Regions from separate parts of the Homo sapiens genome. Here region 2 is linked to region 1. Evidence: fine-mapped expression QTL. Tissue or cell type: whole blood. Region 1 holds a variant in brackets; the other region holds the start of a gene. All regions are shown on one strand. Distances are between the middles of the regions.

Region 1 (8,108 bases):
TGACATCAGGGTGAGCTTCCTAGAACATAGATTTTGATCATTTTCCCTGGTTAACACTGTTCAAAGATATATCACAATCTTTGAGATAGCCTAGCAGCTCAAGCATTGCCTACTCTGTGAAGCCTTCTTTGGGCCCACCAGAGTTTATTAACCACTGCCACCTTCACCCACCCTACCACACCTACCTCTTATTTCTATATTATACTTATTCCAAAATACTGAAATTATTTGTTTACATACTTGTCAATCTTACTAGACAGTGAGCTCTTTAGGATAGGTATCATGTGTTATGTATCACCGAATCTCCCAGAGACTAGCACAGTACCTGGCATGTAAAAGGAATTTCATGATTGTTTAATAAATGAACACCCATCTTCTTACTCTACCCTTCTACCTGAACATTCCTTCCTCTGCCTTTCTACCTTTCTTGGATCAGAATCATAAACTTCCTCTGCTTTCATTGCTATCTCAAGATGGAAGTCTCCCATATTAGTATCTCTTTACCAGACCTCTCTTTTGAGCTCAATATCTGAATATCCAACTGTGGTGTTCCTCCATACACATTTCATTACCATGTGATATTACTTAAAGATAATAAATGAATATAATAAATGAATGTAATAAACTCACTATTATTTCTATATCAAATCAGTTCAAGGAACCTTCCGAGAGGCAGAAGCAAGCCCCTCTCAGAGTAGCAGACTGAGGGAGACCAGTTGAAAGCTACATAATCTATCTTCATTTTCATTGAAGTGATAAAAATGAATTTCTTTTTTCTACTTCTTTAGCTCCAGTCTCTGTTAACACATTCCATCCTTCTCTGTATTTTGTTCCTTCTCCTCTCTCTACTCTTTTCCCTCTTTGGATAAAAAAGTTTCTCCTGATAATAAAAGGGTTGGTGAACATCATCCTTAACTAACATTTACAAATTGTTTATTTAAATGATTTTGTAAGATCATAAAAATTACTCTCTGTCTCAACCATAAACATATTTTAATTATTCCTACCTTTACTGTTGGAATATAGACAGTAATACAAAACACTGAATTTGCACAACTGCCTTTTACCTTTTCCAGTTTTTCAGCCACTTTTTTTTTATATTGTTGGAAAGCTTTACTCAGCTCTTCGGCATTATATAGTGCTTCATTCCTTTGTCGTTCAGCTCTAAAATTTAAAAAGAGATAATGAATAAAAGTGAAGAATGCTCTGCATTTGAAGAGTTAAGTTCCAAAGTAATCTTTAATTATAAGGAATAATTGGAGAGAAACAAATTTCTCTGCACTAAAAAGGAGTATTAGGCTTAAAGTATAAAATGAAGAATGTAGATCATACTACAAAAATTTTCTCACTCTATCAATATGAAAAATAAAACACAAAACAATAATAAACATAAATGTCGAAATATATATAAATTCTTATGTGTTGGCAATTTTTTTTTTCCCTATCTGGAAAAGACAGATTAGGGAAATAGCCTGAGGCTGGATGATACATTTTCAAAGGTTAGGTATTACAGAATCAGTCTATTGTCTAGAATATTAAATATACTCAGTAAATTCTGTGACCTTTGCAAAGGTCAAATAAATTTCAAATAGTTATTTCAAAAAATGGTAACTTCTATTGATACCAGATATAAAAATCTAGACAACAAAAAACACAACCACCACCAACCACTCTTTAAGCCGAACCTTGTTGCCTCATCTCTTAGTTCCTTATGCTTCTTGCAATGAAATGAAAATTTGGGGCACAATACATTGAGAATATTTGGTCAATATCACTCTCACACCTAAAAATATTTTAATATTTAAACCTATTCCCATCATATTCTTTCTAATGTAAGTGAGGTTAGTGACCCTCCTCTTATCCAGGGTGAATTACTCTATTTATAGTCTAGATCTTAACTCTTAACCCTTCAGAAATACACTCTAGCTTCTGTATTTTCATTCTCTCTGTTGGTTATTTTGCCACAAGTATAAACAAGTTCAAGTAAAAGTACTCCTAACTTTCTGAGTCTATGTGGTTAAGTACGTCTATTTGACTCCAAAGTTTCAGATAAAGGAAAGTAAGGACAACAAAGGACTTCTCTGAAAATCTGTAGGAATATAATCAATTCCTGAGTGTGCACAGGTACTGTTCAGATCAAAGGATACCTGTATTTCTCACTTAAACAAACAAAAACCTTCCCACGTATTGTGCTTTCCTCTATTATCCTTCTTTTCAAGCCAGACTTATCCGCTTTACACTTATCTACTCTTCCTCACTTCCAATTTGTAAAAAGTAATGACATATTTCAGCCACATCAAAAAGTCTGGATAAATATTACCATGTACTCCCAATCACGTTTTAATGAATCTTCACTCTTTGTCTGAAAAGGCTACAGAAGACAAACAAAATATTACAAATAAAGTTGAGGTCCTTATGTGTCCCTTCCAAATCCCATTCCCCTGACTTCTTCCAACAGAGGTAACCCTATCCTGATTTTGGTGTTTTTTATTTTGTACATTCATGTTAACCTACACCCACAAATAGTATATATCACAGTTCATCTATTCTAAGAGACACATTGTTTTCACTTTTTGTTGTGTGTGTGGGGTCTTGCTATTTTGCCCGGGCTGGTCTTGAATTCCTGGCCTCAAGTAATACTCGCACTTTGGCCTCCCCAAGTGCTTGGATTACTGGAGTGAGTCACTGTGTCCAGCCTGTTCTCGCTTTTTTTTTTTTTTTAAATAATCTCCTATAGTCTTACCATGTTTTCACATTTTTAACATCTCTAAAATTGTTATGTGCTGGGTGTGGTGGTTCACGCCTGTATTCCAAACAGTTTAGAAGGCTGAGCCAGGAGGATTGCTTGAAGCCAGATGTTAGAGACCAGCCTGGGAAACGTAGTGAGATCGTCTCTACAAAAAGTTAACTGGGCATGGTGGTGCACACCTGTAGTCCCAGCTACTCTAGAGGCTGAGGCAGGAGGATCCCTTGAACGCAGGGGTTTGAGGCTGCAGTGAGCCATGATCGCAACACTGCATTCTAGCCTGGGTGACAGAGCAAGACCCTATCTCTAAAAAAAAATAAAATAAAATAAGACAGTTCCAGGTGGGGGTCTGTAAAGTGCAGCAGCCACGGCCAGCTACCTCATGCTCAACAACAGCACCTAGATGCTCATACTGGGGCTGGGCACCTGCAAGTCCCCCTTGGGCCAGGTAACTGAAGCTGTGAAGGTGGCAATTGACATCGGGTACTGCTGCATTGACTGTGTCCACATGTACCAGAACGCAAATGAGGTGGGGGTAGCCATTCAGAGGAGCTACCCACTGTGGGTCTCCTCTGAGCTGTTCTGTCGCTCAACAGAGCTTCTCTTGCTCACCCTCCACTTGTTTGCTTACCTCATTCTTCCTGGATGCAGGACAAGAACTCAGGACCCACTGAATGGTGGGGCTTAAAATGCTGTAACACAAATGGCTGAAACA[C/T]GCCCCCTGCTCACTACGTTGCAGGCAACAAGAAGAAAAGACAAGAGAAGGAGAGAAGAGCTACAGCCCTTCAGGGGAGCCCAGACCTATGAGCTTCCCGAGCCAGGGCTGTGACACCCTCTTTAGGGCTCTGTGGTTCCTGGTGTCTCCAAGCTTCCAGTACCACCCCGTTCCCTGGTGTCAGCCACAGAAGCTGCTTATGCTATACCTGGTCCAGCCACAGCCTCACAGGGAGCTGGCGCCCGTGCTGGCGCCTGGAGCTGCTCACACCACCACAGCCGGCATGCCTGGCTATGTATAGTGGCTGGACCCTATGGTCGTTCACACACCCCTTGCCATTCTGCACCTAGCTCACCCTTGGCAGGTGTGGGATCCAGGGTGGTAGCACGAGCCAAGCGCAGCCTGCCAGGCTGAGTGGGCAGAATGAGCCCACTGGGCCAGAGTAAAACTCGGGCAAAGGTGCCACTGGCCACAGAGGTTTCTGGCTCGTGAAGCAACACCCCAAGGATCCCAAAACAGCATATTGTGCCCCTCCTACTTCTAGAAATCTGTAAGTATAAAAATTTCTTTCTCCATGTCAGTCCTGTGTCTGTATCTTACCATACCTGATTAAAACAAACCCCAAATACATTTTAAAACATGCATTAAAGCCAGGCACAGTGGCTCATGCCTATAATACTTGCACTTTAGGAGGCCAAAGCAAGAGGACCACTTGAACCCAGGAGTTCAAGACCAGCCTGGGCAACACAGTGAGACCCATGTGTAAAAAAAATTTAAAAATTAGTCGGGTGTGGTGGGGCAAGCCTGTAGTCCTAACTATCTGCGAGCCTGAAGTGGGAGGATCACTTGAGCCCAGTAGTTGGGAGCTACTGTGAGCCATGACCACAGCATTGCACTCCAGCCTGGGTAACAAAGCAATACCATATTTCTTTAAAAAAAAATTAAGACTATACATATCTTCTGTAGATTTTTTCTTATAGTTTTTCTTATTTGATTTTAATTTTTTATTGAGTAAAGTACAGAAATCCTAAATGAGAGAAGTTTATAATAATGTGTATACTTACTTAACTACTAACCCAATCAAATAGAGAACACTTCCAGCACCCCTGTGTACCTTCCCAGTGAATATTCTTTACCCCAAAAAGGTAAGCACCATTTGGACTTTTAACAACATATGTTAATTTTGCCTATCCTTGATTTGCTATGGAATTATACAGTATTCTACTGTGTCTGGCTTCTTCTGCTGAGCATTATATGTGTGATAATAATCCATGTTGTTACATAGTTGTAGTTGCTCTTTTTTACTGATGTGTATAATTATGTGAACATACCACAGTTTATAGATTACACTGTTGATGAACATTTAACAATGAATAAAATTACTCTAACATTCTTGTACATGTCTTTTAATACAGGGACTAAGTTTTGTTGAAATGAATGCTGGATCATAAGGCAGGCTTATGTTTACCTTTAGCAGCTACTGACAAACAGTTTTCCAAAGTGGTTCTACCAATTTACACTTCCATTAGAAATGCAGGAGAGTGGGCCGGGCGCGGTGGCTCACACCTGTAATCCCAGCACTTTGGGAGGCCAAGGCGGGCGGATCACGAGGTCAGGAGATTGAGATCATCCTGGCTAACATGGAGAAACCCCGTCTCTACTAAAAATACAAAAAATTAGCCAGGCATGGTGGTGGGCGCCTGTAGTCCCAGCTACTAGAGAGGCTGAAGCAAGAGAATGGCATGAACCCAGGAGGTGGAGCTTGCAGTGAGCCGAGATCGCGCCACTGCACTCCAGCCTGGGCGACAGAGCGAGACTCTGTCTCAAAAAAAAAAAAAAAAAAAAAAAAGAAAAGAAAAGAAATGCAGGAGAGTTTCAATTCCACATCCTTGCCATAACTTGTTTTTGAGAGTCTTTTCCATTTTAGTCATCATGGGCTGTAGTGGGCCTGATGTTTCCTTTCCTTTTGTCACCATTGTTTTGACTAGTTTAGTTATTTGTGGGCAGATTTTTAATTACTGATTTGATAACCCTAATAGCTATATATATACACACACACATATATATGTACACACACACACACATATATTTATTCAGGTTTTTCATTTATTTTAAAGTTAGTTTTGTTAAATTTTATTTTGCTGAGAATTTTATTTAGTCTAAGTTTTCAAATGTATCATCTTTAAAATGATTCAGTTATTGGCCTTATTTCTTATATATTTCTTATTGCTTACCGATTTATAGCTAAATCTGTAATTTGGGAGTCCCTTGCCAATCCCAACACTTGTGCCTTTTCTCCTTTATTAATCTTGTCTGATGCCCATTTTCTTGTTCATTGTGAAAATAACCACATTTAGGTTTTGGTAATCCTTTATATTGTTTCACTGTTTTCTATTCATCCATTTCATCCTTATCTTTATTATTTCCTTACTTCTATTTTCTTTTGATGTTCATTCTTTCTTCTGATGTCCTCCTTTTCCTGACCACACAATAGTCTATTTCAGTTCATTAATTTTCAGTCATGATATAATACATGTATATAAGGTTAAATTTTTTCCTCTAAGAGTGTCTTTAGGTACAGCCTACATGCAGTGATGTGCATTTTTTATATCACTCAGTTCTAAAGGTTTTCTAATTTATTCAATGGTCAATGAACACCAGTAGGTCAATGAACACCAGTAAGCCTGGTTTTACATTTCCAAACATACAGGATTTCAAGGAGTTATATTCTAACTTAACTGAACTGTGGTTGCAGAAGATAATACATACGACATCAATCTTTTGGAATTTGTTCAAATTCATGCTTTCTAGCATAGTGAGGTAACAGATTACATCTGCTTGAAAGAATGTCAATTTCAAACTGTTGACTACATGGTTCCATATACACATCCATTAGATCAAGAATATTAATTGTCTTATTCAACACTTCAAGCCTTAATTTTTTGTTACTTAACAATTCCTGATAAATGTATAAAGAATTTTCCCCATATGACTACAGATTTGTTCTTTTCTCCTTGAAATTGTGTTATTTTTCTTATGTATTTTGGGACTAAATTATTAGATACATATAAGTTTAGAGTCTTTATATCTTGCTGGTTTAGAGTCTTTATATCTTCTTGGTTAAGTGTTAAACATTATATGAGTCATTTTAATGTTGGTAATGCTTGTTGCACTGAAGTCTATTCTGTGTGATCCTAATATAGTAATATCAACTTTGCTTTGGTGAGTATTTATCTGAAACATTTCTTTCCATTCTTTTTTTCTCTTTTTTGAGACACAATCTTCCTCTGTCACTCAGGCTGGAGTGCAATGGCACAATCTTGGCTCACTGTAATCTCTGCCTCCTAGGCTCAAGCAATCCCTTTCACCTTAACCTCCTGAGTAGCTGGGACTCCAGGCGTGTGCCACCACACCAGGCTAATTTTTATATTTTTTGTAGAGATGGGGTTTCACCATGTTGCCCGGGCTGGTCCTGAACTCATGAGCTCAAGTGATCCACCTATCTCGGCCCCACAAAGTGCTAGGATTACAGGTGTTAGCCTCCGCATCCAGTCTGCTTTCAATTTTTCTGTGTCCTTATGTTTTAGGTAATCTCTTACAAACAGCATAAAGCTAAACAATCTCTCCCTTTCTTTACACTGGCTTTTTAATCCATTATGATTAATCTTCTCCACCCAATAGTCCTTGAAAAGGTTCTGATCTTTCAATCTCAGAATGTGTCTTAGTCTATTTGTGCTGCTAGAATAAATATCATAGTCTGGGTAGTTTATAAAAAACAGAAATGTATTTCTCACAGTTCCGGAGGCTGGGAAGTCCAAGATCAAGGTACTGGCAGTTTGGTAGGGCCTAATCTCTCTGCTTCCAAGATGGTGCCTTAAATGCTACATCCTCCAAGGAGGAGGAACACTTTATTCTGACATGACAGAAAGGAAAAAAGGAACAAACTCCCTCTGTCAAGCCCTCTTATAATGGCATTAATCCATTCACGAAAGCAGAGCCCTTGTGACCTAAGTACCTCTAAAATGCCCCACCTCCCAACAGTGTTGCGTTGGGATTAAGTTTCCAATACAAAAAATTGGGGGGACACATTCAAACCATAGCAGAAAGTCAATATTCATTTTAGTTCTTCAAAAAGCTCCAAGAGTCTTCATGTCATACCTCTACCTAAAAATCTCAATTGGCTATTTATGCTTTCCAGGTTAAAATACAAATCCTTTGGTATAACACACAAAGCCATTTACAGTCTGGATCCAGCCTGTCTTTCTTGTCTCATCTCCCACTACACCTATTTACTTATAAGAACATAAAATTACTTAAGAGTTCTTCAGCAATAATACCCTTTTATACTTCTATACCTTTGCACATGCTGCCCAGAATGTGTCTGTCCCCCACTTACTCACTTTGTGAAGCCAAAGTCAATATTTAGCCAGGCGCAGTGGCTCACGCCTGTAATTCCAGCACTTTGGGAGGCCAAGGAGGGTGGATCACTTGAGGTCAGGAGTTTGAGACCAGCCTGACCATCATGGTGAAACCCAGTCTCTACTAAAAATACAATAATTAGCTGGGTGTGGTAGTGCATGCCTGTAATCTCAGCTACTCAGGAAGCTGAGAAAGAAGAACTGCTTGAACCCAGGGGGCGGAGGATGC
Region 2 (8,108 bases), 150 kb before region 1:
TTATCTTACAAAGCTACTAGTGTGAGAAGGACAGGAATTTTTTAAAAATTCCTTCAACGTAAGACAGCTTGGAGCAACTCAACAGCTGAAGACGCAAATTCTCAGATACTCTTTCAAACTTTTACTACTTTCAGTTACAATTCTCATAAATGTGAGGGGAGATATTTCATGTAAGGTTCTCAACCCCTGACTAATTCTCAAAAATTACAAGTAATACCTGAAATCAAGTATTATTTGTACACAAATAAGAAAACCTTAGTTAAAAGATTTCCCTAAGGTTAAAGAATTCTCAGTGCGGAACTTACAGCTGACTCTCAATGTCAATTCTTTCTATAAGGCAACAGAACATGTTAGAACTCATTCAAGAATACGTGTTCACAAAAAACTGCAACAAAATAGGAACACCTTTTATAGCTTAGAACTCCCTCTATTCATGTATCTATGGTCTTCAATACCAAGTCTACTTTCTTAAACTCAAAATAAGCAAAACAGAAAAAAAAATTTTTTTAAATAAGTTATTTCATAGATATACTGGTGATAAAATTAGTTCAACTTTAACTTGCATTTTACAGAACTATCTCAGAATGCTTAATTTGCTCAGACAAGATAAAGCAAGGTGAGAAATGAACAAGTGAAATGTCCTGAAGCAAAGTCTAATTCATTAAACTTATCACTAAAAACCCAAACTTCAACATGTGAGAATCATATCACTTTAAAATGTACATTACTTATTCCATTTGGATATATTCTACATTCCTAATCAATGCTGACAGAAAAGTATAAAAATGTCCTATTATGATTAGTGTATAGGCACACACTTCAAACACCTAAAACATATAAACCTTAAGAATTTCTTTAAAAATGTAATCTCTCAAAACAAAACTTCTTTGGAATAATTAAGCAATATGAGATTATAAATGTATAAAGTCTACAACCCCAACTAGGGAGAATTCTTGGGCGAAAATGTAGATTCTTAACCACTTTTAAGAATAGCATAATACAAGAAAAAAAGGTAAATTTTTAAATTTAAGGTAACACGTCAATACATGATTTTTAAAAACAAATCATCTTCATTACACAATGGAAATGCTTTTTCACTATAGCTTTCTGACTCACACATTAAACTGAATTTAGCATATTCCAAAGTTGAATTATTTAGCATACTGCTTGCTACAGCTGCACTTCTATTCCATCATGTCAATCAGAAATCTAAATATATCCTAGAAAAGAATCAACTCTCCCCAAGAAGACAGACTGTAATGTGTTATTAGGTTTTTGGAACGATCCCCACTTCTGTAGTGTAAACAAATGTTTAGGCAGACCCTGCTGAAATCTTTTGCAATTTTCATTAGAAAGGCAATGTTGATAAAGGTTCTTTTTCCTTTTTAAGAGTTGTAAAAAGAAATTATAGCTATCTGTGCTGGATAATCTTGTGAAAGACTTATGACAGCAATCACACATACAATGTAAAAATAAATACACAAGGGAAAAAATAGACAACTTGGCTTTCATTTTACTTGCTAGAGTATTCAGCACACCAAACAAGTAGAAAAAAAAAAAACTAGTACTAGTTTTAAGAATCAAATATGCTTTTTCCTAGGGATTTTTCTGCTTGTGTACTGAAATGGCAGGATATATTTTAAAACTACTTTCAAGACGTCATAAAGGATTAAAAATGAATCATTTAATCCTTTTGTCAATACTGAGAGTAAAATATTGGATATGGTCAATATAAGCAGATGTGTTCTCTACTTCAGTACAACAGGAAAGTCACATTTTAAAAAGTTAAATTATAAAAATTAAGTGATAGACAACCACCTGCCTATCAAAATGATTAAAATTAATCATTTTTCCCTGATTTCACAAGCAATCAATAACTTTAATTAGATTATTACAAAAGGCAAGTTCTCACCTCAAATTGAGTACAACTCTTTCACAAGAGTACATGTAAAAATATCGCAAAAGGTACGTTCCCGAAACATTATGAATAGTAAATATGTTTCTCCTCTCTGAAACCACCAGAATACAGTCCCCCAAATCCCTATTACGGGACCAAATCCTTTCCAGGATAAAAGAAACTGTTGAAGTTTTCAGAAGTGCTGTTCCATAAAAGCCTAAGTGTATACATTCAAATAGGAATGACAGCAGGAAAGGACGGGGAAATTTTCCGTTAAAAAAAAAACTTGCATAAACTTTCAATCAAAGATTTCAAAACTTATCTCCACAGAATAGAACAAAGCAAACGACATAAAAGCAAACGAAAAGAAAAAAACGAAAATTTAAAGTTCACCCTATTCTTACAGAATGGAACAGGAGTTATTTGGTAACTCATTCATGAACGTACCATCAAACCATTTTTAGAGCAGAAAACATACACCTTTTATTTAACAACGATAAACTTGACAACGTTGAACACATTGTATGTTAAGAATTTTTTAACTCATGTGTTCAGAAAATAAATCTTTTCCTCTACATTGGTGAAAGGTCAGGTGGGGAAGGGGGTGCTCTGTCTCCACCCACGTTGAAGTTCCTCCGTCTGAATTTTAACTTTCCAAAGGAGAATTTCTGCGTTCCTTAATTATTATCTAAGTTCAACTTCAGGCAAGTAATTCTTGTTGCTTCGGCTTACCTGGCTGTAAAGTGAGATCACTCTTATTCTTTACGTTTTGGGGACGCTGACCTAAATGTTTGCACTCCTTACATGTATTCGCTGGATGAAAAGTACTGCAAAAATGCTACAAAGGGATTGTTTTTAAAGCACCGGCTGCCTACATGCCAGTCTGGCTTTTTCATTAAGTTACTTACCAGGGAAGAGGAATGGAGGCTTTGACACGAAAGGGTCACGCGATTAGCAGACTGCTACCCTAGAACCTCATTCAAACCAGCTCTCACACACGACTTACCTTGTATGACATGCTCTGGTGAGATGGTCTTCTTTTCCGATTTGTTACAAATCTCATTGGCTTCAGAAGATATAAGGTGAATGAATTCAGTGCAGCAGTTCACCACCAGCTCTCGAGCATCGTTGGCCACCCGGACATTAGGAAGAGTCTCTTTGATCATTTTATTGATAGCAGCTCTGGGGATAGTGAGATCATCATCGTTGCCAGACGAGGAAGCCATAGTACCTTCCTGTTTCTCGCGCCCCGGCTTTTAAAAACTCCCCAGCTCTGGTCCACTACTCCACCGAGATTTCTCAAAAAGTCGCCCTCGGAGAGTGATCCCGGGGGGTGCTTTGCGAAGAGGGTGCAGAAAATGAACGGAGGAGCAGCTGGCTTGAGGGCTGGGAACACTCGCGTGTGTGAGAGATTTAGGATGAGTTTGGGAAGAAAGTGGGGGCCCGAGGATTCTAGAGAGAGCACAGCCCAGGCTGAGGAGGGGAAAGCGCGGTGGTCCGGAAATTTGAGCGGCTGGGGAACCACCTTCGTGTCTCCTCAGAGGGGCGGGCGCTGTCGCCTAACTGGTCCCCAACGGCGTCGGAGCAGAGGCAAGATCCAGGGGCACTGGCCTCGCCGCGGTACCGGGCGGGTACCCAGCGGGCTCGGCTCTATAGAGCCCGAGGCCCCGCTGCCGCTGCCGCCGCCGCCAGCAGCCGTTGCCGCCGCCTCGGCCAAACCATCCTTCAGACACCCGCGCCGCCGCCTCACAACATGTCCGCCGCTGCCGCTGCCGCTGCCGCTGCTGGAACGGCGACGGCCGCCTGGGAACTAATATGGACAGAGCCAGGCACAGTGGGAGTCGCAGTGGCTGCCGCCGTGGCCGCGTAGCCCGAACGCAGATCGTGGAAGCCGAAGACGCGGCAACGGTGGTCCCTCCAGATGCCAGGGAAGGTTTGCAGGAAGCCGCTCCCGACACCCTTTGCGCCACCGGAAGCCTCGTTCCCTCAGATTTCCCCCTCCCTCCCGGACCGACTTCCGGGTGTGGCTGCCGCCCTTCCCCCACCCACGCCGGCGGGAGCCGCCCGTTCGCGCTGCCAGCAGCTTCCGCCTGCTACGGTCCTGGCAAGCACCTCGGGATCCCATTCCTTCACAGGGACCCTAGCCAGGCAAGCGCGCGCCTCACTGTACCGGAGAGCTCCAAGCACGCGCTTGGTCTGGGGCCCGGACGCTACATCTGGGAAGGGGTGGGTGGCTGGGTAGATAGGCGAGGAAGGATCGTCTCTACCCTCTCTCAAGTAGCTGAGGCCTCCGAAACCTTCCCTAGCTGGATTTGGGGACAGAGGAGCGCTGGTATTGATAAAATAACTCTCTTTGCTATTCCTTTAGGAGCCCAAATGAGGATTGAAAGTGAGAAGAATGGGACCTGGGCTTGGGGGTGGGAGGTGGGGAAAGCAGAACCCCGTGTGCCTGTTTCTGCGTCGTCTGGAGAAAAAGCTTTTCAAGATGTCTGATAGACCTTATTCGGTTCAAAGCTCTCTAAAGTCCTTCACCTTTTTTTTTTTAAACTTCATGAAAAATGAAACATTTCAGAGAAGTTACTTGCCTAGAGGCAACTAAGTCGCCTAATGGCTAAGTAGGAAAGCAGAAGTCAGTTCCAACATAGTGGAAATGGAGTGGAAATGCATGGCATACAATGAGCTATATTAGAAGGTTCCCATTTAGACAGTTTTCATGTTGTATTCCATGTTGGCTTCTACAGGGGAAAAAAGTGTTAGAGCATCTTAAGCAACTGTTTTTACTTCTTTCCATAGTGACTAGTAATATCAACAGGTGTCAAGGTCTAAACAGAAATTGCATTTAAAAAAAAAAAAAGTGTGTCAGCCAGGCGTTGTGGCTCATCATACCTGTAAACCCAACACTTTGGGAGGCTGAGGCAGGGGGATCACATGAGCCCAGGAGTTCAAGACCCGCCTGGGCAACATAGTGAGACCCGTCCCTACAAAAAAAAAAAATATATATATATATATATATAATATATATTTATATATATAAATATATATTCCAACATCCCACTGTTTATAGTATAGCCTCTTCTATATGACAATATGAAACACGGGTTTTTTTTTCACCAGGCTTGGTGGCAGGCACCCGTAGTCCCGGCTACTCTGGAGGGCGAGGTGGGAGGATCGATTGAGCCAGGGGGTCAAGGCTGCAGTGAGTTGCGGTTGTGCCACTGCACTTCCAGCCTGGGTGACAGAACAAGATTCTTTGTCTCAAAAAAGATAAAAAAAAAAAAAAAGTAAAAAAACTGAGTCTGTCATACTGTCATGTGGAAGAAGAGGCTATACTATAAATAGTGGGATGTTGGAATTTCTAAAAACTAAACAAGACACTGTTGAAATCCATTTTGTCACTTTGGTTCATCAGATTCATTACTCTTGATACATATGATGGCAACTGGCTTGTTGACAGTGTTTTCTTAAAACGTTCTGTCTGAGCCCTATATGCTGCTCTCAAGAAGACATTACAGTTTATTATGCTATTTTTTCATTTAGCATTTTCTGCAGGACAACTTACTGGTTCTTTAATTTCTGAAGTGTAGACACTTGTTTTTCAGTGCTACTAAATTTAGTCAAAACAAAATTTCTTTGATTAAAAACAGTATTTTAATTAAATTTTCTTCAGGCTGGGCATGGTGGCTCATGCTTGTAATACCAGCACTTTTGAGAGGCCAAGGGGGGCGGATCACTTAAGCTCAGGAGTTCGAGACCAGCCTGGCCAACATGGTGAAACCTCACCTCTTCTAAAAATACAAAAATTAGCTGGGTGTGGTGGTGGGCACCTGTAATCCCAGTTACTTGGGAGGCTGAGACAGGAGAATCGCTTGAACTCTGGAGGCAAAACTTGTAGTGAGCCAAGATCGTACCACTACACTCCAGCCTGGGAGACAGAGCACGACTCTATCTCAAAAAAAAAAAAATACTTTATGAAGTGGTGGGTTTGTTTTTTTTTGTCAGTTTACTGTTGATTTAAAGATTTATTATGGTGCCTAAATTTATCTTGACCTTAACAAGTTTATCCGTCTGAAAAAGCTGGCTGGCAAAAAATGTCCCAAGTTGTCACAGTGTCACTGACCCTTATCTTGTCTCTCCTGAAAAAACTATAACTTTGCTTTTTCATGTAACATTTATGTTTATAGACTTATGCTAAATAGACGAGTAGAGCACACATTATTTCAGTAATAGTTTATTGCTACAGGCTTCTGTGGTAGCATAAACAGAATTGAATGTGTAGTAAGAGTTGTAGGTTCCAGTCCCAGCTTTTTTTTTTACTTAGACAAGTCACTCTCCAAGCCTCATTTTCTTCAGTTCAGATATAGAAATATTATGTAACACACAGGATTCAAAATCAAATGAGAGTTGTGTGAAAGTACTTTTTATAGTATGAAGTGTTATATAATGTTAGTGTCTTTTATCATCTTTATCAGGCTTGGTCAGTCTTCAACTAGTAATGAACCATGTAACTAGTTTATTACATACGTGGCTGAGAGAAATTTAATTGGATATAAATACCAGTGTGATATGTCATAAAATATGCTAATCTGTAGCCCATATTTAAATAGTTATTTATAGTACACTACATGTATCTGTATTATAAATAGGCTTTTAAGGACAAAGAGAACATCTCCTTATTAAGCTTTAAGAGTTTCAGAGAGAATGCATATATATGAAACTTTTTTTTTTCATGTTGTCTAGGTGTGGTAGTGCACACCTGTGATCCTACCTACTTGGGAGGCTGAGGTGGCAGGATCACTTGAGCCCAGGAGGCTGAGGCTGCAGTGAGCCATGACACTACTACACTCCAGCCTAGGTGACAGAGTGAGACCCTGCCTCAAGAAAAGGAAAAAAAAAGTTTAGCCTCAGAGTAGGGTTAGGGGAGTGTCACTGTCAAAAACAGTGGAGTTGAAAGGGAGCTGTTTAGAGAAGATGTGCTTGCTTTTGCACATGTTTGGGCAGGCATTTGTAGAAGTGGTGTCCTATAGAAAGTGGAAAGAGAAGACAGCATCTGATTTCTACATTCATTCAATAACTGTCTAGTGTCCTGACTATGATGTGGGAGAAATAAAGATGAATATAACTCCCACCTTGTTCTTGAAGACCCTATAATCTGGTGGGAGAAGCAGAATATAAACCAGATTCAAATAAATATTGTGATAAAATATACAGGCTAAGAATGCATGGGAAGAAGTGATTAACACACTAGTTGTGGAGTACAAAGGGTTTTATGGAGGACTGGATATTTTAACTGCACCTTGAAGATTGAGTACAATTTTGATAGGGAAGGAAAGAGCATGTAGCTGAAGAAAAAACACAAAAGTACATTGTATGGCTTGGGGAAATAAAGTAGTCTAGAGTGGCTCTATTAATAAGGTTTGTAAAGAGGTGTAGTGGTATATGATGCAGGAAAAGTAGGTTAGGGCAAAAAGAAAACAGATCAGTGCCTGATATGAATTATACACTGGGCCAAAAGTTTTTCATATTTGCTATTTCATTTAATTTCCATATAGCCATGCAAAATAGGTGTTTTGACATGGGGGGAAAACAGTCTCAGAGAGTTTTACTAATTTGTTCAAAGTCTCACAGATAATAAGTAATGGAGCTGAAATTTCAAACCAGGTTGTTACTTAACTCCAAAGCTGAAGCTATTTGTAATTTGGTAACTATCTCTAAATTAAAAAAAAAAAGGAAAAAAGGTTATATTCATTATAGGACTTTAAAAATATAAAGCACTTTCACATGTATTTGGTCTTTATAACTAGTCATTAATCCCAATTGATGGATGGGAAAATTGAAGCCCAGTGAGATTATTCAAGGTCACAGAGTGAATAAGTGGCAGATTGGAAATGCAACCCAAGCTTTCTGACTACAAAGTCTCAAGTCTTTCCACATCATTTTAAGAAGTCTGGAGATCCTTTTGTAAGCAGTGGAAAGAGTTAGTGAACATTTTTGAGAAGGGGGATGACATAAACAATAATGTTTAAAAAGATTAGTTTGAGTTCGCATGTGAGATGGTCTGGAATGGACAGAGACAAGAACATTAATTATTAAGCTATTGTAAAAATAGTAATGATGTAGACCTGAACAAAGAAAGTTTGGTGATAATAAGATAAAAGAAACAAATTAGAGGCATTTGGAAACAGAATTTACAGGATTTAGCTTCTGCCTGCAT

Evidence for each region. PIP is the estimated chance that this variant, and not a neighbour inherited with it, causes the effect.
Region 2: CCDC18-AS1 starts here. The variant in region 1 is fine-mapped to the expression of CCDC18-AS1 in whole blood (TOPMed, PIP above 0.99).

What each region holds. Positions count from the first base shown.
Region 1 is chr1:93,194,948-93,203,055 of GRCh38, reverse strand. CCDC18 (coiled-coil domain containing 18) reads right to left here. Exons shown (of 29, transcript NM_001378204.1): 7 at 1,068-1,164. Among named protein-coding and RNA genes, the nearest start is that of CCDC18, 18 kb to the right of the region's middle. The variant C/T (reference allele first, on the strand shown) is at 3,462.
Region 2 is chr1:93,341,661-93,349,768 of GRCh38, reverse strand. It overlaps CCDC18-AS1 (CCDC18 antisense RNA 1), which reads left to right and starts at 3,958. Exons shown (of 9, transcript NR_034089.1): 1 at 3,958-4,045. It overlaps DR1 (down-regulator of transcription 1), which reads right to left and starts at 3,862. Exons shown (of 3, transcript NM_001938.3): 1 at 2,904-3,862. The coding sequence starts at 3,123. RefSeq lists enhancers at 3,023-3,232, 3,293-3,362, 3,732-4,267.